Regions from separate parts of the Homo sapiens genome. Here region 2 is linked to region 1. The links come from fine-mapping of genetic effects on gene expression. Tissue or cell type: lung. Region 1 holds a variant in brackets; the other region holds the start of a gene. All regions are shown on one strand. Distances are between the middles of the regions.

Evidence for each region.
Region 2: KCNT2 starts here. The variant in region 1 is fine-mapped to the expression of KCNT2 in lung (TOPMed, PIP 0.97).

The regions. Positions count from the first base shown.
Region 1 is chr1:196,517,138-196,528,072 of GRCh38, forward strand. The region is part of intron 1 of KCNT2 (potassium sodium-activated channel subfamily T member 2); the gene reads right to left. Among named protein-coding and RNA genes, the nearest start is that of MIR4735, 60 kb to the right of the region's middle. The variant T/C (reference allele first, on the strand shown) is at 4,921.
Region 2 is chr1:196,602,717-196,613,651 of GRCh38, forward strand. It overlaps KCNT2 (potassium sodium-activated channel subfamily T member 2), which reads right to left and starts at 5,724. Exons shown (of 28, transcript NM_198503.5): 1 at 5,499-5,724. The coding sequence starts at 5,593. RefSeq lists an enhancer at 6,059-6,575.

The DNA of each region.
Region 1 (10,935 bases):
GAACAGAGCACCCACCTCACAGAAAAGTGGTCAGACGGTATTCCATGCAGGTCCCAGTACTCTCTTCTCCCTACTGGGCAGGGTCACCTGACATATGACTCCAGTAATACCATGCTGCCCCCACTTTACCACTTTAATCAGAGGGAGCCCAGCAGTTAAAGCAATATCCACACACAGAGATGAGAAAGAACCAATGCAAGAACTTGAGCAACTCAAGTGGGCAGAGTGTCTTATCTCCTCCAAACAGCTGCACTAGTCTCTGACAAGGGTTCTTAACCAGCCTTAATTGGTTGAAATGACAGAAATAGAATTCAGAATATGGATAAGAATGAAGATCACCAAGATGCAGGAGAACAGCAAAGTGCAATCCAAGGAAACTAAGAATCAATAAAATGACAAGGAGGTGACAGATGAAATAGCCAGTGTAAGAGAGAACCTAACTGATCTGAAAAGGCCGAAAAACACACTACAAGAAATTCACAATGCAATCGCAAGTATTAACAGCAGAGTAGAACAAGCTGAGGAAAGAATCTTAGAACTTGAAGAGTGTCTCTCTGAAATAAGACACTCAGACAAAAATAAAGAAAAAAAGAATACAAAGAAATAAAACCTCCAAGAAATATGGGATTATGTAAAGAGGCTAAATAGATGAGTCACTGGCATCCCTGAAAGGGACAGGAGAAAGCAAACAACTTGGAAAACATATTTCAGGATACTGTCCATGAAAAGTTTCCTACCTTGCTACAGAGGCTAACAGTCAAATTCAGGAAATACAGAGAACCCCTGCAAGATTAAACACAAGCAGATTATCCCTAAGACACATAATCATCAGATTTTCCAAGGTCAAAATGAAAGAATATTAAAGGCAGCTAGAGAGAAAGGGCAGGTCACATACATAGGAAACCCCATGAGGCTAACAGTGGACCTCTCTGCAGAAACCCTACTAACCAGCAGGCATTGGCAGCTTGCATTCAACATTCTTAAAGAAATAAAAAATCTTCAATCAAGATTTTTATATCCAGAGAAACTAAGCTTTCTCAGAAAAGAAGAAATATGATCCTTTCCAGATCAAATGCTAAGGGAGTTTGTTACCATCAAGCCCACCTTAGAATAGACATCGAAAGAAGCACTAAATTTGGAAAGCCAAAACCATTACCAGCTAATAAAAACAAAGCTAAGTACGTAGACCAGTGAAACTACAAAACAACCACACAAAAAAGCCAGCATAATAACTGGTTAAAAACACATGAGAGGATCAAATCCACATGTATCAATACTAATCCTGAATGGAAACAGGCTAAATCTCACCATTTAAAAAGTACAAAGTGGCAAGCTGGATTTAAAAAAAAAAAAAAAAAAGCAAGATCCAATGGTATGCTGTCATCAGGAGACCCATCTCATATGCAATGACACTGATAGGATCAAAATACAGGGATGGAGGAAAAATATATCAAGCAAATAGAAATCAGAAAAAAGCAGAGGTTGCAATGCTAATTTCAGATAAAACAGATTTTAAACTAACAAACAACAAAAATGATGGAAAAAAAAGCACATTACATAATGGTAAAGGGTTCAATTCAAGAAGAAGACCTAACTATCCTAAATACATATGCAACCAACACAGGAGCAACCAGGTTTATAAAGCAAGTTCTTAAACTTACAAAGAAACCTACAAAGAAACTTAGACTTCCACAAAATAATAGCGGGAGACATCAACACTCCAATGACAGTCTTAGAGAGATCAGTGAGGAAGAAAATTAACAAGGACATTCAGGACCTGAACTCAACATTGGACCATATGGGTATGATAGACCTCTACAGAACTCTCTACCCAAAAACAACAGAGTATACATTCTTCTCATTGCCACAAGGCACATAGGTTAAAATTGACCATACAATCCAACATAAAAAAATCCTCAGCAAATCCAAAAGAACCAAAATCATACCAAACACACTCTCAGAACACAGCACAATAAAAATTAAAATCAAGAATAAAGAAAAAAATCACTCAAAGCCATGCAATTACATGGAAATTAAATAACCTGCTCCTCAATGACTTTGGAGTAAACAATGAAATTAAGGCAGAAATCAGGAAGTTTTTTGAAACTCGTGAGAACAAAGATACAACATATCAGAATCTCTGAGACACAGCTAAGGCAGTGTTAAGAGGGAAATTTATAGCATTAAACGCTGATATCAAAAGTTAGAAAGATCTCAAATTAACACCTTAACATCACAACTAGAAAAACTAGAGCAGCAAAAGCAAACCAAACCCAAAGCTAGCAGAAGACAAGAAGTAATCAAAATCAGAGCTGAACTGAAAGAGATTGAGACAAGAAAAACAAATAAAAAAATCACTGAATCTGGGGGTTAATTTTTTTAAAAAAATAATAAGTTAGATAGGCTAATACCTAGACTAATATAGAAAAGAAATAAGATCCAAATAAGCACAATCAGAAACAACAAAGGAGATATTACCACTGTCCCCACAGAAATACAAATAACCATCAGAGACTACTACGAACACCTCTATGCACACAAACTAGAAAACCTAGATGAGATGGATAAATTCCTGAACACATACACCCTCCCAAGACTGAACCAGGAAGAAATTGATTCCCTGAACAGACCAAAAATGAGCTCTGAAATTAAATCAGTAATAAATAGCATACCAATACACAAAAAAAGCCCAAGACCAGAAAGATTCACAGCTGAATTCTACCAGATGTACAAGGAAGATCTAGTACCATTCCTATTGAAACTATTCCAAAAAATTGAAGAGAAGTGATTCTTCCTTAGCTCATTCTATGAGGCCAGGATCATAGAAACGATACTAAAACCTGGCAGAGGCACAACAACAACAGCAAAAAGAAAACTTCAGGCCAATATCCTCAATGAACATGTATGCAAAAATTGTCAACAAAATACTGGCAAACCAAATCCAGCAGCATATCAATAAGCTAATCCACCACAATCAAGCAGGCTTTATCCCTGGGATTCAAGGTTGGTTTAACGTATGTAAATCAATAAATGTCATACATCACATAAACAGAACTAAAGATAAAAACCACATGATCATCTCAATAGATGCAGAAAAGGCTTTTGATAAAATTCAACATCCCTTGATTTTAAAAACTCTCAGAAACCAGGTATTGAAAAACCATATCACAAAATAATAAGAGCTATATATGACAAGCTCACAGCCAATATCATACTGAATAGGCAAAAGCTAGAAGCATTATACTTGAAAATTGGCACAAGAGAAAGATGTCCTCTCTCACCACTCCTATTTAACATAATATTGAAAGTCCTGGCCAGAGCAATCAGGCCCAAGAAAGAAATAAAGGGCATCTAAATAGGAAGACAGGAAGTCAAACTATCCCTGTTTGTAGATGACATGATTCTCTATCTAAAAAACTCCACAGTCTCAACCCAAAGCATGGTACTGGCATGAAAACAGACACACAGACCAATGAAACATGGTAGAGAACCCAGAAATAATGGTGAACACCTACAACCATCTGATCTTTGACAAAGCTGACAAAAGCATGCAATGGGGAAAGGACTCCCTATTCAATAAATGGCACTGGAATAACTGGCTAGCCATATGCAGAAGATTGAAACTGGACACATTTCTTACACCATATGCAAAAATCAACTCAAGATGGATCAAAGAGTTAAATGTAAAACCCAAAACTATAAAAGCCCTGAAAGACAACCTAGGTAATACCATTTAGGACATAGGAATGGGCAAAGATTTCATGACAAAGACACCAAAAGCAATCACAACAAAAGCAAAAATTGACAAATTGGATCTAATTAAACTTAAGAGCTTCTGCTCAGCAAAATAAACTATCAACAGAGTAAACAGACATTCTACAGAATGGGAGAAAATATTTGCTAACTATACATCTGAAAAAGTCTAATATCTATAGGGAATGTAATAAATTTACTAGAAAAAAGAAAACAAGTAGCCCCATTAAAAAGTGGGCAAATGACATAAACATCAACTTTTCAAAAGAAGATATACATGCAACCAACAATCATATAAAAAATAGCTCAACATCACTGATCATTAGAGAAAAGCAAATCAAAACCACAATGATATACCATCTCACACCAGTAAGAATGGCTATTATTTTTAAGAAGTCAAAAAATAACAGATGCTGGTGAGGTTGTGGAGAAAAGAGAACGCTTATACATTGATGGTGGGAGTGTAAGTTAGTTTAACCATTGTGGAAAGCAGTTTGTTGATTCCTCAAAGAGCTAAAAACAGTACCACCATTTGACCCAACAATCCCATTACTGGGTGTATACCCTAAAAGAATATAAATCATTCTACCATGGAGATACATGCACCCACATATTCTTTGCAGCAATATTCACAATAGCAAAGGCATGGAATCAACATAAATGTCCATCAATGGTAGACTGAAAAAAGAAAATGTGGTATATATACACCATGGAATACTACTCAGCCATAAAAAAGAATGAGATGATGTCCTTTGGAGGAACATGAATGGAGCTGGACGGCATCATCCTTAGCAAACCAACATAGAAACAGAATACCAAAAACCATATGTTCTCACAAGTGGGAGCTAAATGATGAGAACACATGGACACAAAGAGGGAAACAATAGACACTAGGGCCTACTTGAAGGTGAAGGTTGGGAGGAGGGAGAGGATCAGAAAAAACAACTATTGGGTACTAGCCTTAGTACCTGGGTGACAAAATAATCTGTACAACAAACCCCTATGACACAAGTTTACCTATATAACAAAGTGAACATGTACCCCTGAACCTAAAATAAAAGTTTTTAAAAAGCACATTAAATTATAAAATAAAGATGAATGTCAGGAATTCATAAATAGATTCATAAGTAATTAATTAATTAAATTCCAGTAGTACTTGTAGTTTTG[T/C]CTAACAATACACCACAGAATATAATAATCACTGTAACTTATATTTAAACAATGTGCTTATGCAGAAAGAGTCAGTATACTGGGAAACTCCATTCCAAACCTGCTTTCATTTTCTGCATGCATATTTACAAATTTTGTCTTTTTGTATCCTAGATTGCTTGTAAACTTCTTTATGTTAACAAAAATTAAAGATTAATTGAGATGAATTTAGTTTAGGTGTCCATAAATGAGCTATAGGCCAAATACAAACTAGATAGAAGTGATGGAAGATAATACATATGTGAAAAGTATTACTACTAGAGGTACCAGCAGTTTTTGATGAAGAACAGATGTACATTTACCAAAATGATGTTCTAATACAAATAGTAAAATCTGTGGAAAATAAGTCATTAAACCTTACATTTTTATGCTTCAACTCTTAAAATAATTTTCAGATGCCTGAACTGTTTTATTCATTGGGTTTAATATGACTTCATACTCCTTAGTTTGCAATTGAGAAAAATAAGCTACTCATACTAGTGAGAGGTGAAGCCAGCGGGACTTCCTGGGTCGAGTGGGGACTTAGAGAACTTTTCTGTCTAGCTAGAGGACTGTAAACGCACCAATCAGTGCTCTGTGTCTAGCTAAAGGATTGTGAATGCACCAGTCAGCACTCTGTAAAAACGCAGCAATCAGCACTATGTGTCTAGCTAAAGGATTGTAAATGCACCAATCAGCACTCTGTAAAAAACGCACTAATCAGCATGTTGTGTCTAGGTAAAGGATTGTAAATGCACCAATCAGCACTCTGTAAAATGGACCAATCAGCACTCTGTAAAATGGACCAATCAGTGCTCTGTAAAATGCACCAATCAGCAGGATGTGGGCAGGGACAAATAAAGGAATAAAAGCTGGCCACCCAAGCCAGTGTGGCAACCCACTTGGGTCCCCTTCCATGCTGTGAAAGTTTTGTTCTTTTGCTCTTCACAATAAACCTTGCCGCTGCTCACTCTTTGGGTCCACACTACCTTTTTGAGCTGTAACACTGCGAAGGCCTGCAGCTTCACTCCTGAAGTCAGCAAGACCACGAAACCACCAGGAGGAACAAACAACTCTGGACGCACCACCTTTAAGAGCTATAACACACACTGCAAAGGTCTGTGGCTTCACTCCTGAAGTTAGCAAGACCACGAACCCACCGGAAGGAAGAAACTCCAGACACATCTGAACATCTGAAGGAACAAACTCAGGACACACCATCTTTAAGAACGGTAACACTCACCATGAGGGTCTGTGGCTTCATTCTTGAAGTCAGCAAGACCAAGAACCCACTGGAAGGAACCAATTCCGGACACACTAGCTTAAATTAAGAAGGAATTTAAAGCCTCTCAAAAATGAAAAGTGTAGACTGGTGACACCTACAGACATGGATTGAAGCAGGAGCCCATCTATTCACCGCTACTTTATTTTTCTCCATCTCCAGTTACAATTCCCTTGGTTCATTCAGAAGCAGATTTTCCTTCATGGTGGCAAGATGTCTGCAACTGCTCCAGAAATTGTATTTATTCTTGTTGAGTCCAGAAAGAAAGAGAGTCTAGACCAGAATTTCAAGAAAAACTTCTATTGGGTCTCAAAGCATCTGATAGAGCCATGCATCTACCTTTAAATTAAAAACTGAGGTCAGAGGATATAAAGTTCCTTAACTGACTTAGCCTGGTAACGTTTGTGAAAATAAGCGATTCAAATTAAAGCTGTTGGAACTTTCAATTATTTTGAGTCTTAAAGAAAATGTGATTGTTTCTCTAATTATAGATTAACTTTTTCCTTACCTACTTTGTTTTGTAAAATGTTGCAAAAGATTAAATGACACCAGAGATAAGCTCTCTTCCCTCTTACTTGTTGACCCTCATTATAGGTTAACTTCCTCCTTTTTTCTCTTGCACCTGACACAGATCAGATAGCACAAAGACTCTATGATTATCAAGTTGCTCAAGATGAACTGTTAAGTATACCTTTCCCAAAAACGAACAAGCTGTAACTAATCAAATTGTAATTCATAAACCAGCTTTATATGAAAATGTTGTAATCCTACTAAATTTCTTTGTTTCTACCTATAAAGGTAAAATCCTAGTTCTCCACTTCAGAACACTGACCCCATTCATTTGGAGTCTGTGTTTCCTGGGCAGCCATCCTTAAATTTCACACTTGAGTAAATTCTTTAGAACTGGATTCTGATCATTTTGATTATTTCAGGTTCACACATTCTTATTGGGAGTTTGAATGAGAATGGGGTGGAGAAGGGTACAAAGGTCCACGGACTGAGAATAAGGGGGGAAAAAAAGTGGTTTTCCAGAGAGGAATCAGGAATTGTTACCAAAAATGAGACAATGGATGTCCAGTGGTATAAAATAACATGTCCACTAAAGAGGATGGCAAGTAAATAATTATCACTAATGCCATATTACATAATAATTTTCCATATTTCACTAAATACAATGAGTGAGGTTATCAACATCATGCTGTATCATTTAATGTCCATGTTTCAAATGTAAATACAAGACATATTACATAATACGATGTAAAACAGTGAAGTTCACACTAAAGTCATATATAATAAGATATATTTTGTGTTAAGGAAAATCTTCATTTTCCTATATCCCGGATATCATTATCAAAAAATAATATTGATAGTGGTGTTATTAAATGTAATATTTGGGTTATCTACCTATTGTAGTCCCAAGCTATCAAATTTTCATTTTACTTCTATTTCTAGCAACAAATAGGAAAGTCAATCAATTTAGATCTAATTTATGTTCCATAAACTGTCTTCTAGCTTAAAAAATATTAATTTAATAAATCACTAGGTTTTGACTTTTATAAATACAATGAGTATTATAGAATCTTCAATTTCTCATCTATTTTATATTGCTATGGTTGAAGTAGAGAAAAGGAAGAAATCTGGTGATTTGTTGTATTTTGGAGATCTTTGCAAAGAACAAGTCAAATTTGACTTTGAGATTCTAGCTCAAGCATCAGATTAGATGTCAATGTCATTTACAAGGATAGCTAATATCACAAAAAAAGTAGCTATTCAGTGGTTTTTGATTGTCGAAGAAAGTGAGGGAACAGGTAGAAAACGACCACAATGGTAGTATTTTCACAGTTATTTGTAGATTTACGTAAAGCAAATAAAAAAAAAAATCAGTTGTCTGCACAGCAAATTCCCAGATGGAGTTGACCCAGGCCATGCTCTGCCTTCTCGTTTCAGCTCTCATACTGTAAACAAGTGTCTTTTTCATGGTCTTAACAGTGACACTTTTTTTTGTATTTTTATGCTTTTTGTTCGTAATTTCCCTGTTTAATAGCTCTTACATGTAACGTTGAGTTTCTGCTACTGTTACTAAGTGCAAGAAGGCTGTGATATACCTTACAGAGAAATATATGTGTTAGATGAGCTTTCTTCAATCATGAGTTATAGGGCTGCTGTCTGTGAGTTCAATGTTCATCCAGATAATCACCAATCTGTATATGGGCCTGCTCTAGAAAGTGCTAAACTAACATTTATTGTGCATAATGAGGCTATAGAAAAGATGGGAAGGTAGCTAAATTTGTGAATTCATGAGGTGATAACTGATTTTAAAACAACAAAAAAAGCACAGTAGGCAGTACTGTTACGAGGCTGAAAGCCAAAAAAGTTTACATTACTGTTTACAGCCATGTTGGCCAGAATCAAGAAGTGTGAAAACTTTCTTAGCTAGCGTTTTATTATAATGAAATACTGTACATATTTAATTATGTAATATAAATATACATTTTAAAAGGTGTCTTTAAACAGACATATACATAAAACAAGGTTATGTATTGAACACTTGACAAAAAATGTGACCAAAGGTTTAGAAGTAGTAGTTTAGTATTCACTAATGCAGAGTTGATGGCAACTTTATAGAACATAAATAGCACAAATAATGAGAACTGACTCTGTGTGTGTGTGTGTGTGTGTGTGTGTGTGTGTGTGTGTGTGAATCAGCACACTGAGGGGTACGCAAAAAAGTGCTAGACACAGTCCCTGACTTTGTGTTAACATTTGAGGAACAGACAAGAATGCATTGGATCATCCAAATAAAACTACAAGGTAGGGTCTTAAGGCTCAGTGTGAGTGAAACTTTACACATATAATTACATAAAAAATGTTCATGTATAATTTATATATGCTATGATATATATAAACATACATACAATTTCAATGCTTATATTTTATAAATTATAATATATAAATCATATAAAATATAAATGCACACATACACAGTCCATTCAAATGTTATATGTTACATTATTGTATACATAAATTATACATATATAATTTACATACATACAGTATTACTCGCTCTGAGTCTTAGAACCTTACCATGTAGGTTTTTTGTTTGGTTTTTTTTTTTGAGATGGAGTCTTGCTTTGTCGCCAGGCTGGAGTGCAGTGGCACGATCTCGGCTCACTACAACCTCCGCCTCCCAGGTTCAAGCGATTCTCCTCCTCAGCCTCCCAAGTAGCTGGGATTACAGGCACGCGCTGCCACACCCAGCTAATTTTTGTATTTTTAGTAGAGATGGGGTTTCACCATGTTGGCCAGGATGGTCTCAATCTCCTCACCTCGTGATCTGCCCACCTCGGCCTCCTAAAGTGCTGGGATTACAGGCGTGATCCACTGCGCCCGGCCACTATGTAGTTTTTTTTGGATAAGCCAATGTGTTCTTGTCTGTTCCTTAAATGTTAACAACACAAAGTCAGGGACTGTGTCTAGCACTTTTTTGCATACTCCTCAGTGTGTTTATTCTGTAACAGTGGTCCCTAACCCCCATGCCTCAGACTAGTACCAGTCTGTGACCTGTTAGGCCCACAGCAGGAGTTGAACAAGCATTACCACCTGAGCTCCACCTCCTGCAGCGACATTAGTTTCTCACAGGATCGCAAACTCTATTGTGAACTGTGCATGTAAGGGATCTATGTGGTGTGCTCCTTATGAGAATCTAACTAACGTCTGATGATCTGAAGTAGAACAGTTTCATGCCAAAACTGTGCCCCCACTGGTCTATGGGAAAACTGTCTTCCAAGGAACCAGTCACTGGTGCCAAAAAGGTTGGGGACCACTGTTCTATAGGATATCTCAAATCTTCTTGTAGAAGAAGCAAAAGAGCGTTTGAAATGGCAAGTTATCTCTTTTATTCATTTTAATGTAAAAAGATGTACCTCATAGAACTTATGAGAGCTATTAATAAGCTTCAGTAACTTGTCTTCTGTTTGTCCAATATAAGGTATTAGTAACACAAAGGTTGAAGCACAGACATAAAAATGCATCATACTAACATGAAGTTAGGTTAAATTACCTGAAATATGTTCAAAAGTATTCACGTGTGAGTAATGACAGTTTATTAGCAAAACAGGGTAACGTAAAATGAATGATATTAATAATCTAACAAATTTTTTGAAAATGAGGCCATTATCTTTACAGTTTCAAGTACTTTAAAAGCTGCTTAAATTTCTTTCATGGGGAACAATATTAATAGGAAACCATTATTCTGCTTGTGAATCAGCATGTGCTCTTGAAAGTTGCATATATTTCTAGCATATGAAGGATATATGCTTAATTACTCAGAAACTTTCATTTCAATAAAAATATGAAGTTACCATTTGAAAAGTTCCAATTTGTTTAAATAATTTAATGTGAAGCAAACTTGCTGGTGCACAAGAAGGAACATAATTCCTATGAACGGAGGTACACCCCTTTCACACACAGTGACAGAGCAAGAATTGAACATAGGTCTGGTCTTGTATCATGGCTCCTGCTAATGTACCAAATTTCTTCTGCCATTTTCCTTAATCCTAAATTGTCAACTTTCTAGCCTCAAATTGCTTTCAGTTAACTATCTCTAATAAGCATTTTTGATAAAACAGAATAATGGTCAGTAATGGAATGACAGCTATGTCACCAATCTAACAATCTCCACAATCAGTGCTATAGAACAATGACCCATGTCTATT
Region 2 (10,935 bases), 86 kb after region 1:
ATAATACATTTTTCTCTGCATTTTATGTATTACACTATATATATTCAAAGTCTATTTTTTTTTTTTTTTTTTTTTTTTTTTGAGACGGAGTCTCGCTCTGTCGCCCAGGCCGGACTGCGGACTGCAGTGGCGCAATCTCGGCTCACTGCAAGCTCCGCCTCCCAGGTTCACGCCATTCTCCTGCCTCAGCCTCCCGAGTAGCTGGGACTACAGGCGCCCGCCACCGCGCCCGGCTAATTTTTTGTATTTTTAGTAGAGACGGGGTTTCACCTTGTTAGCCAGGATGGTCTCGATCTCCTGACCTCATGATCCACCCGCCTCGGCCTCCCAAAGTGCTGGGATTACAGGCGTGAGCCACCGCGCCCGGCCCAAAGTCTATTTTTTATACCATTATCTGTTTAAGTTTCTAATTTTCTATTGCCTTATTTGTGGATATTTTTCTTAATAAAGTCGATATTGATAAGAAACACAGGATTGTCTAAACTCTCTTTCTAAAGTAAATGCTTAAATCATTTTTGTAGATATTGTATATGCATAGTTGATGCCACTATCGATTAAAGAGTAAAAATAATGTGTCATTCATTTTAATGGCGCTCAAAAATTTAAAATTGTCTTTACTAACCTGAACTTAAAATTTAGAATAAATATTTTATAATAAATGGCTGTTTTTCAAAACAATATATAATTTATAATGGAGATAAAGTTAGTAATTTATAAAATGTTTAATATGTCAATACAAAACCCATTCTCACAATTGAATTTGATTATGTAAAGCAATATATTTTGCAGTGTATATCTAAAATTACACATATTCCAAATGCTGTGGAAATATTTTTCTATTTTTGTAAATACCTCTTAAACTGTTAATGGATTGACTTGTACTATGTTCAAATCCTTTAATGTTTTAACAACTACAATGCATTAGTTGACTTCCTTGAATTACTTCTAAAGGCCACCTATAAAATACAAAAGGTATGCATGATTATTGGATTTGAAACAAGTGACCTGATTTTTGAAAACTAGAATGGTCTTAAATAAATGACCTTCTCTTCTATGGCTACAACTGAGGATTTTCCATTAACAGTAGTTGGAATTGTGACAATTTATTCACATTAAGTGTGTTGTGTTCCAAAGTTTAAAATTACTAAATCATGATGAAACAGGAGAAGACTTGTATAACTGGCTGATGACTTTTAAAACCTGTAACTTATCAGTGTTTAACTGCAGGAGAATACTCTAAATCTTTACTGCTTTGTGAATCATAGAAATATTAAAACAGAAAACAGGCTTGGAGCAGTGGCTCCCACCTATAATCCCAGCACTTTGGGAGTCCAAGGCAGGAAGATGGCTTGGTGCCAGAAGTTGAATATTGAATGTTGAATGCCTTGAGCTATCTCTAATATGTGATTTCAACTACTTTATTTTCAAGCAAATGCTGAATATCCTTTCTACAAATGGTGCAGAATCTTCTTGACAGTATTAAAATGGAAATTCTATAAGGACATCATCATAACATAAACAATACTGTCAATATTCTGAGGTGAATTAACCTCTTATCATATCTGTGACCCCCTCCAGACTGAGCGCTATTTCATATTCTTTTCCGTATTTGTCCCAAAACCTAACTTAATGGGGCCCTGAGACATAGCAAACATTCAAATATTAGCTGAATGAATGAATGGCCATTAAAGACATATCATACAAACCACTTGAATTAGATTTTTGTTTTTTGCTCAGGATGTCAAACAAGTAAGTGTGCATCATATATACAAAAGACATCCCTACACATAAGCAATATTCTCATTTAGCAACTCAAATTTATTTCATGGCCTCACAGAAGTAGTGTTATCCATGTGCTAAATTCTCTGCACTGCTGTGTCTAACCCTATTCCCATATGTCCTACTCAGAAAAGGATATCAGAGTGCAAATGAGAGAGAAGCAATTATCTAAGGATGGCGTAAAGATAATACAAAGACATATCTATTCATTACATATATTATAATATATATTATTAATCACATATTTGTAATATATGATGCATTACATAATATACAATTTTAGCATACAATATACAATATTTTATAATACATATATTACAAAAGCAATGCATATCTGTTACATATACACTATATACATTACATGTACATTATGCCAGTGTATGTGTATGTGTTTTTACCTACACAAAAGGTGGCACAATATAAATTTAGATGACCTACTTATCCAAAGTTGATTCACAGAAAATCTATGGTATGGAATACACATTTCCTACACCTAATAGGCCCATCAATATTATGTCTTTAACAACACCCATTTGAGCATCTATCATATGCTTCATTCATTTTCATGTGCCAGTCAACTATGACCTAAGATGGAGTTTGAAATTCTTACAGTGAGGAACAAGGTAGAAAGTGTTTATACTCCTACATTTGGAACACAATTCCCCCATCATTACAAGGATGTGGCTCTCTACATCCAGAAAACAGCTATCTTGATGCAGATTCTCCCAGAAGGTAAGCTTGAGATAGGATTGCAGCAAAAGCAGTTCATTTGGGAATTGATCACAGATAAAATACCAGTAGGGGAGAAGAGAGACAGAAGCCAATAAAGCTTTCAGTATTAAGCCAGTTATCACTGCGGGCAAGTGGAGCTCAGTCCCTTTGGACACAGTGTAGAACATGCTTCAGAATTCTCCAAGCTAAGGAGCAAGGAAGCAAAAGTATTGATTCAGAAACAGCCTATTTACTCAGTGACACTCCAGCTTGTTCTCCAAGCAGGACTTGGATGCACCTGAGGTTGGTGGTGGGGAGAAAACCTCATGCAGGAGGTGTTCAAAGAAAGTTGCTTTGAGAATATGGGCAGAGCACTAAATGTATCTGTTGTTGGAAATGATCTACCTACTCCTACATGAAAGAGGGCTTCCTCCTCAACTCTATAAGAATTGAGTCCAAGAAGATAACTGAGTAGAATGAGATTGCTATCCAGGCGTAATTGCAAAGAGGAATTTGTCACCATATTATAGACAAGGAAGATGACTTTACCTACCACATATTAGCTTAGGAGTCTGAAAAGGGAGAAAAAAAGGATTGCAAAGGGCAAATCAGAAGTGAAGAAGGGAACTAATATTTAATGAGCACCTAAACTATGCTAGGTGCTGTAAATTATTCTTATAAGTTCAAATAAATTAAGTGAAAAGAACTTAAGAATTTCTTGAGGGATTTGAATAATAATAAACTGAACTGAAGAGTTATCTTTACACTGATAAGATATAATATCCAAGACACGTATTTAATTTACCAAAATTTCAGTTTCCTTGTGCCTAACATAATTGCCTGCTATTCAGAGTTTGTCTGAGGATTAACTAAGAAAGAACATACCGCACAGTTAAAAGAACTTGGGAGTACTTATTTCCAACTAAATGTTAGTTCTGCGCCTCTCCATCCTTCCTCTTGTCACAGTTTTATAAGGTAGACAGTATAATTCCCATTATAAAAAATAATATTGCTGAATCTCATAATGGCTGAATGACTTTCCCAAGGCCACTCAGCTAGTGAAGGAAACAGCCAAGGACTGAATCTGGGTTTCTCTGATTCCAAGTATCTTGCCTTCAAAGATTAACAACAAATGGAACCAAAACCAAAGAATAGTTTTCCATGAAGCCACAAAAGTAGCCAAATCCTTAAAAATGGTTGAATGATTGTTTTAAATATTTAATAACTTATTTTAGTAGTAAATGTGGCCTGCTTTTTAAGTTAAAGTTGGGCTAGCATAACCTTTTAATAGAACATAAAATTTTAACCATTCTGCAAAACTTTTTTAATATGGCACTGATCCATTTAGGCAGTGTTCAACTAACCAAAATTCTTAATTACTAAAATATTTCTGCAGCATCCTTAGAAAAATGAGGGCAACCACATGAAAATTAACATATTGGATATGATATTTAAAACAAACAAACAACAATACCATCACTATAACCAAAGTATGTGCTTTATGTGTTTAATCTATCTCACACTTTCTACAAAGAGGATTTCTATTCTATATAATGATCCTGAGGTCCTGAACTAAATATACATTCAGTCACTAGGAACACCATGCTACACTTACTAAGCCATTTAACCAGGCTAATGCAGTTTATCTAAATGTCAATTTGTATTACAAATTCACTTAAAAATTATTTTCTTTATCTTCAGTTTACCCAAACACTTTACAAGAATACTGAGAAATTGGTATTACTTCTTTAAATTTTTAGCCAATATGTGTGGTTTTGCCTAAAAAAGAGATTGAACCAAAATATCCTCTACAAAACATCCATCTCCTTTCAAATTACTAATATGAGACCAAACAAGATGCCCATAATTGATGCTCAAGATAAAATCCTCAGTGTGTAGAGACAGGAGTTGGTATTGGGAGCTGAAAAGGTGAAGAAAAGAAATAGAGTGTATTGGTCAGTGGTGAATGAGGAGGGGATTTTGGATTGGACCAATAATGGATCTTTTATATAACTAAAATAGCACATCAATACTAAACTAAACTTCAATGAAACATTTCAATTGAGTTGAGAACCTAGTTAGTATACATGTATTATTTTAAAACAAAGAAATGTGGCATGTGATATATGGGATGACTATTCCAGAAAATACTAAATTCGCTGAAATACAAAATGTGCTTGAGACAGAAATAGACAGAGGAATTTCAGAAGTTTGTGCAAAGCAGTAATGCTATAAATAAAACACATGAACAATATTTTGCTAACAATAAATATTCTAGTTTTGAAACTTAATTTTAATTTTGAGACATATATTCTGTTTCAGTTAAAAAAATATACTAGTTATGAAAAGGTTGTATCATGTTATACAAACATCATTATTCATAATGGTCAGAGTCACCTGTTCAAAGTGAGTATATTGTATTAAAAAGGTTGTCATTTTCACTAACTACCTGTTACATATTTAAACCAATTGTCTACTTAAAACTCCAAAATGTTTAAACAGCATAAAATTTCCAGTGCCAAGTAGATACCTACTCAAGACAACACAGACAAGGAGGAGGTAAATAGACTCAGGAGATTTTAAGTTTCTAATGTGCTTTTTCAAACAACTTGCATGCAATTTTGAGTTTGATTAACCACACCTAAGGAAAAAATGCAAATTTTCTGGAAATGATATTGCATACCATTTGGGTGTATTGTACCTCTGATACCAGCCTTATACACATCCTAGAAAAGCACAGATAGACAAAAGAATAAGCACCAAATGAATGCAATAAATACCTTGCAAGAATAAGAAAAGTGTAAAGAAAAAGAGTTCCTTATCTATAGCAACAGTTATATAGAGTCAAAATGGAGAGACAAATCAGAGTCTCTTTTACTCCCTCCCCCAGCCTAGTCTCCCTCTCTGGCTCCGTTTTCCTTTTCTCCCTCCTTTCCCCACTTCGGCCCTCCCATTTCCGTCTCTTTTTCAGCAATATTTACAGAACAATCCTCCACCACACCACTCACCTGTCGTCGTTTTGCCATCCTTGGTCCCCTAGCAGCAAATCTCGAAACCTGTACCTGGGAGGCAGAGGGGGCACTTCGCTCTCCAAATCAACCATCCTTCCTCAAAGAGTGGGAAACATCAAACAACAAATGGAGGAGAGGAGGGAGAAAGAAAGAAAATATTGCGGAGTACAGGGAGAGGACTAACAAGACGCTGTGGCCGAGAGAGGGATGGGAGAAGGGGAAGGGGACAGGGAGGGGGAGGGGGTCCGCTTGGAGCCGGAAGCTAAGGCTTGAAAGGGGGCTGGCTCCTCTTTCCCGAGGGTGTAATGGGGATGATGCAAACCCAACCCAGGAGCAAAAGTCTGGCTCTGACAAGAATCAACGCTGCCAAGGAACCGCCCCCAGGCTCGGCACCGCCTCTGGTCCCCAGGACTAGGGGGAGGCGGGTATAAAAAGTTACTTCGCCGAAAAAGACGCGCGGTGCCTAGAAAGAGGGGAGAGGGGTGGGAGTGAGCGCCGCTTGATGGTGAAGCACTTTCCTTAAAGGCAGTTGCCAGATCCTCCCAGAGGGCAGCCTCCCGGCTACTGTTCCCTCGGGCGGGCTTGCATCCGGCACAGCCCTGAGCTGGCGGGAATCGGGGGCGGTGGGTTTCGGCCCCAGACGCGGCCAACCCGGCTCTCCCCGCAATCTCCCTGTGGAGATGGAGCTGGAGGCCCAGCCAATGAGACTCCCCCTCATTAGCATAGCACAGTGACGGCACGGGGGTGCCTTGGGGACAACCAATGGGGGCGAGCTAATTAGCGGATTGCGGGGCTCCAGACCCTTCTCTGGGAGGAGGGGGGCCAGGGTGCTTGGAGTGTTCCACTATGCCACGAGCTCCCTCGCTTTGATTGCCTTCAGTCCAGGTGGGCGGGATGAAAAAATTGCACGTTTCTGGAAAGGGAATCCCCACTCTCAGCCCCAGGAAAATCCCATTTTTTTCTCACATTCTGAAAGAAGGGAGGTGTTTCCCTGAACTCGGGGAAAAAGAAGGGCCACCTTAGGCCGCTGAAGAGAAGCATTTAGATGACAGGGAAAGCACATGGAAACGCACTGAGGATTTTACAGTGGTGAGTTGCTGTTACTGCTGTCGCTGCTACTAGCAGCGTTGTGGGCTTCCAGGTGGCCTGGCCTCAGCCTTCGGTCCCCTCCTATTAGTGGTTCACACGGAGGAAGAAGTGAGCCCGAGAGAACAGGGTCTGTTTTTCAGTAAGAACCACTGCTTACATGAACCCTGCTACACAAGCTATGGTTCTATTTGCGCTTACCGTTCTTTCCTTCAAAAACTGATTGCATCAGAGTATATACAGACCGAATACCAACCACCTGACAGCCTGGGCCGGAGGATAACCATATGGCTTCTCCTGCCCTTACTTAAGAACCGCTCTGTGTGGAGGAACAAGCTTGTTCCTTGATAAATGGATACGATGTGAGAGACAATAATCAAAGAACATACAGAGGGATTTGGAAATACCTGTGAGGTACACATACTTCTTCGAGGTGGGGGTCAAGGAAGACATTGAAAATGAACCAAGCCTTCTATATTCGTTCGCAGCCTACTTTAGGGAAAAGAGCAAAGGTGAAGCAAGCAGAGAGAATAGTATGAGTAGAGGCATAGGGATTTTTTAGAATATTTGGCTTATCCAGAAAATAGTGATTAATTTGGCATGATTAATGCTCAGTAGAGGTCATGTAGCAGAGGGTTTATTTAAGAAGCTAGAAATGAAGGAAGAAATTACCAAAACTTGTAACATCAAATGAAATACAATGACTACTGAAACCTGAAGAATAGCAGTTGAAATAAAAGTCATACTGTTTGTCTCTGTCTTCAAAATCCTACTCATCCTTCCAGACCCATCTCAAATTACATATCCTCCATTAGATTTCTTGGTTTTTCCAGCTTCTTATGATGTCTTCTTCCTTTGAACCCCTTTGTTTGAACCCTTCATAACCCATGTGAGTATTTTGCCTGGAATGCTTACTATAACCTGACCCGCTATACGATTATCTGTGCGTTTTTCTTTCAACTCTTCCCCTCTCCCTGTGGCTTAGCTGCCTCTAGCACGGGACCTTCAAAATAGCCACATTTCAACAAATAGGTGTGGAGTTGCATTAAAAGCTATTAAATCTAGGAAATTAAGCATGTTTTTTTCCATCCATGCTTGCACTCCTGTGGTATGTGTTTGTTTATGAAATCATAATTTAGCACGAACTTTTGTAATTACTTTGCTAAATAAGAAAGTAATATTGCTACATTATTAGTTTATACAGATAGAGATAGAGAGAGAGATCTGGTTTATATTTTAGACCTTATCATCTCCTATTAAAATGATTCTATTAATTTTATTTGTAATGTTCCAAGTTAATATTTATAGTTACAGTCTAACTGTATTATTTGGATGACAGAAAATCTGAAATATTTACATATCATTAACAGACTAAAAATCAAGACACTGAAAAAAGAAAAAAAATAGCAATCGATTGTTAGTCCTGGGATGCTGGAGGTTAGAGGGTAAAGTAACATTTTACTTAAAAGAAAGCTATGTGCCTCTATTTTACCTTTTGTGAAAATCTTAGTCATTTGGCTTCCAAATACTCAGATAAAAGTTTAGGAGAGAACAAATAGTACATTAAAAATAAATAAATAAGAAAAAACCTACTCAGCTAATACTGTGTGCCATTATGGATACAAACTATACAAAGTAATGTGCTCAGGGCAACCAATTGGAAACTACCACATTGATGATATTTTGATTCTCTGGTGTGTCTTGAAATTGTCCAAGTGAATTTTTTTTACTATAAACTTAAGAAAATTAGAAGAATAATGTATTATAGGAAATGCTATTGATATGGTTTGGCTCTGTGTTCCCACCCAAATCTCATCTTGAATTGTACTCCTATAATTCCCATGGGTTGCAGGAGGGACCCGGTGGGAGACAATTTGAATCAAGGCAGTAATATACGCCGTACTGTTCTCATGATAGTGAATAAGTCTCGTGGGATCTGATAGTTTTATCAAGGGTTGCCGCTTTTGCATGCTCCTCATTTTCTCTTGCCACCGCCATGTAAGAAGGACCTTTAGCCTCTCATCATGATTCTGAGGCCTCCTCAGCCATGTGGAACAACTGTAAGTCCAGTTAAACCTCTTTTTCTTCCCAGTCTCGGGCATGTCTTTATCAGCAGCGTGAAAATAGACAAATACAGTAAATTGGTACCAGTAGAGTGGGCATTGCTGAAAAGATACCCAAAAATATGGAAGCGACTTTGGAACTGGGTATCAGTCAGAGATTGGAACACTTTGGAGAGCTCAGAAAAAGAGAGGAAAATGTGGAAAAGTTTGGAATCTCCTAGAGACTTGTTAAATGGCTTTGACAGAATTGCTGATAATGACATGAACAATCAAGTCCAAGCTGAGGTGGTCTCAGATGGAGATGAGGAACTTGTTGGGAACTGGAGTAAAGGTGACTCTTGTTATGTTTTAGCAAAAAGACTGGCGGCATTTTGCCCCGCCCTAGAGATTTGTGGAACTATGAATTTGAGAGAGATGATTTTAGGGTATCTGGCAGAAGAAATTTCTAAGTAGCAAAGCATTTGAAAGGTGACTTGGGTGCTGTTAAAGGCATTCAATTTTAAAAAGGAAACAGAGTATAAAAGTTCAGAAAATTTGCAGCCTGACAATGCAGTAGAAAAGAAAAACCCGTTTTTTGAGGAAAAGTTCAAGCTGGCTGCAGGAATTTGCATAAGTAACAAGGAGTCAAATGTTAATCCCCAAGACAAAGGGAAAAATGTCTCCAGGACATGTCATAGGTCTCCATGGCAGCCCTGCCCATCACAGACCTGGAAACCTGGGAGGGAAAAATGGTTTCATAGGCCAGGCCTAGGGTCCCCATTCTGTATGCAGCCTAGGGACTTGGTGCCCTGCATCCCAGCTGCTCCAGCCATTGCCAAAAGGGGCCAACGTACAGCTCAGCTGATTGTTTCAGAGGGTGCAAACCCCAAACCTTGGCAGCTTTCTCCCATTTAGAAACGGGTGTATTTACCCAATACATGTACCCCATTGTATCTAGGAAGTAACTAGCTTGCTTTTGATTTTACAGGCTCATAGGTGGAAGGGACTTGCTTTGTCTCAGATGAGACCTTGGACTGTGGGCTTTTGGGTTAATGCTGAAATGAGTTAAGACTTCGGGGGACTGTTGGGAAAGCATGATTGGTTTTGAAATGTGAGGACATAAGATTTGGAGGGGCCAGGGGTGGAATGATATGGTTTGGCTCCGTGTCCCCACCCAAATCTCATCTTGAATTGTACTCCTATAATTCCCATGTGTTGTGAGAGGGACTTAGTAAGAGATAATTTAAATCCTGGGGGCAGTTTCCCCCATACTGTTCTCATGGTAGCAAATAAGTCTCATGAGATCTGATGGTTTTATCAGGGGTTTCCCCTTTTGCATCCTCCTCATTTTCTCTTGCCACTGTCATGTAAGTGCCATGTAAGTGCCATGTAAGTGTCTTTCACCTCCCTCCATGATTCTGAGGTCTCCCCAGCCATGTGGAATGTAAGCCCAGTTAAACCTCTTTTTCTTCCCAGTCTCAGGTATGTCTTTATCAACAGCATGAAAACAGACTAATACAGCTATTCTGGCATTTTTTAAAATATAGCAATATTTGGGCATTGAAACACATTTATAATTGGAAGATCATTTTGCTCCTTGTATTTTTTTTTCAGTCTTCTGTAGGTGTACTTTTTCTTTTTTGTCGTTAATTTTGACTTCTGTTTCTCCCATCTGTCTTTCTACTCTTTCATTCGTTTTTTTCTTGTCATGTCATGTCATTTCCTGCTGTTAAAATGTATTTTCCTCTTTCACTCTTTTTACCTTTGTTTCCCTTTTTCACTGTGCTCTTTTAATTGCCTACCTCATAGAGCCTTTCCTTTCTCTATGTTTTATTCTACTATGACTTGAGATTTGCTTTTTGGAAACAATTTTAAACTTAGTTCTGAACATTGCAATTTTGTATCTTACTCACTGATGTTCTTAAATCTTCTAATCAACATCTAGTGTAAGTTAGAGCAACAGAGGAGATTGCCCCACACTAAGAAAAAAGAACTTTGTAAAATGTCCTGAATGATTATGCCAATGGGGTAGAGTAAGTATTTAAAAAATGAAGATTAAGGAGAATGGCTTCCTGGTTTTAGAAATTTTATTCTTTTTATTTTCTAGAAAACATATGTGATACCTTCTCATTTCTCCTTCTTTTTTAATAAAAACATTCGTGTTTTAAAAATCTCTGGTTTCCAATACACTGATTGATTATACTGATGTTTTAACACAAAAAGAAAAGATTCATTCCCAAGGGTGAAGAATAATTTAATTAACAATTTTAACACCTTATTGATAATTAAGTTGTGATGAGCTCATA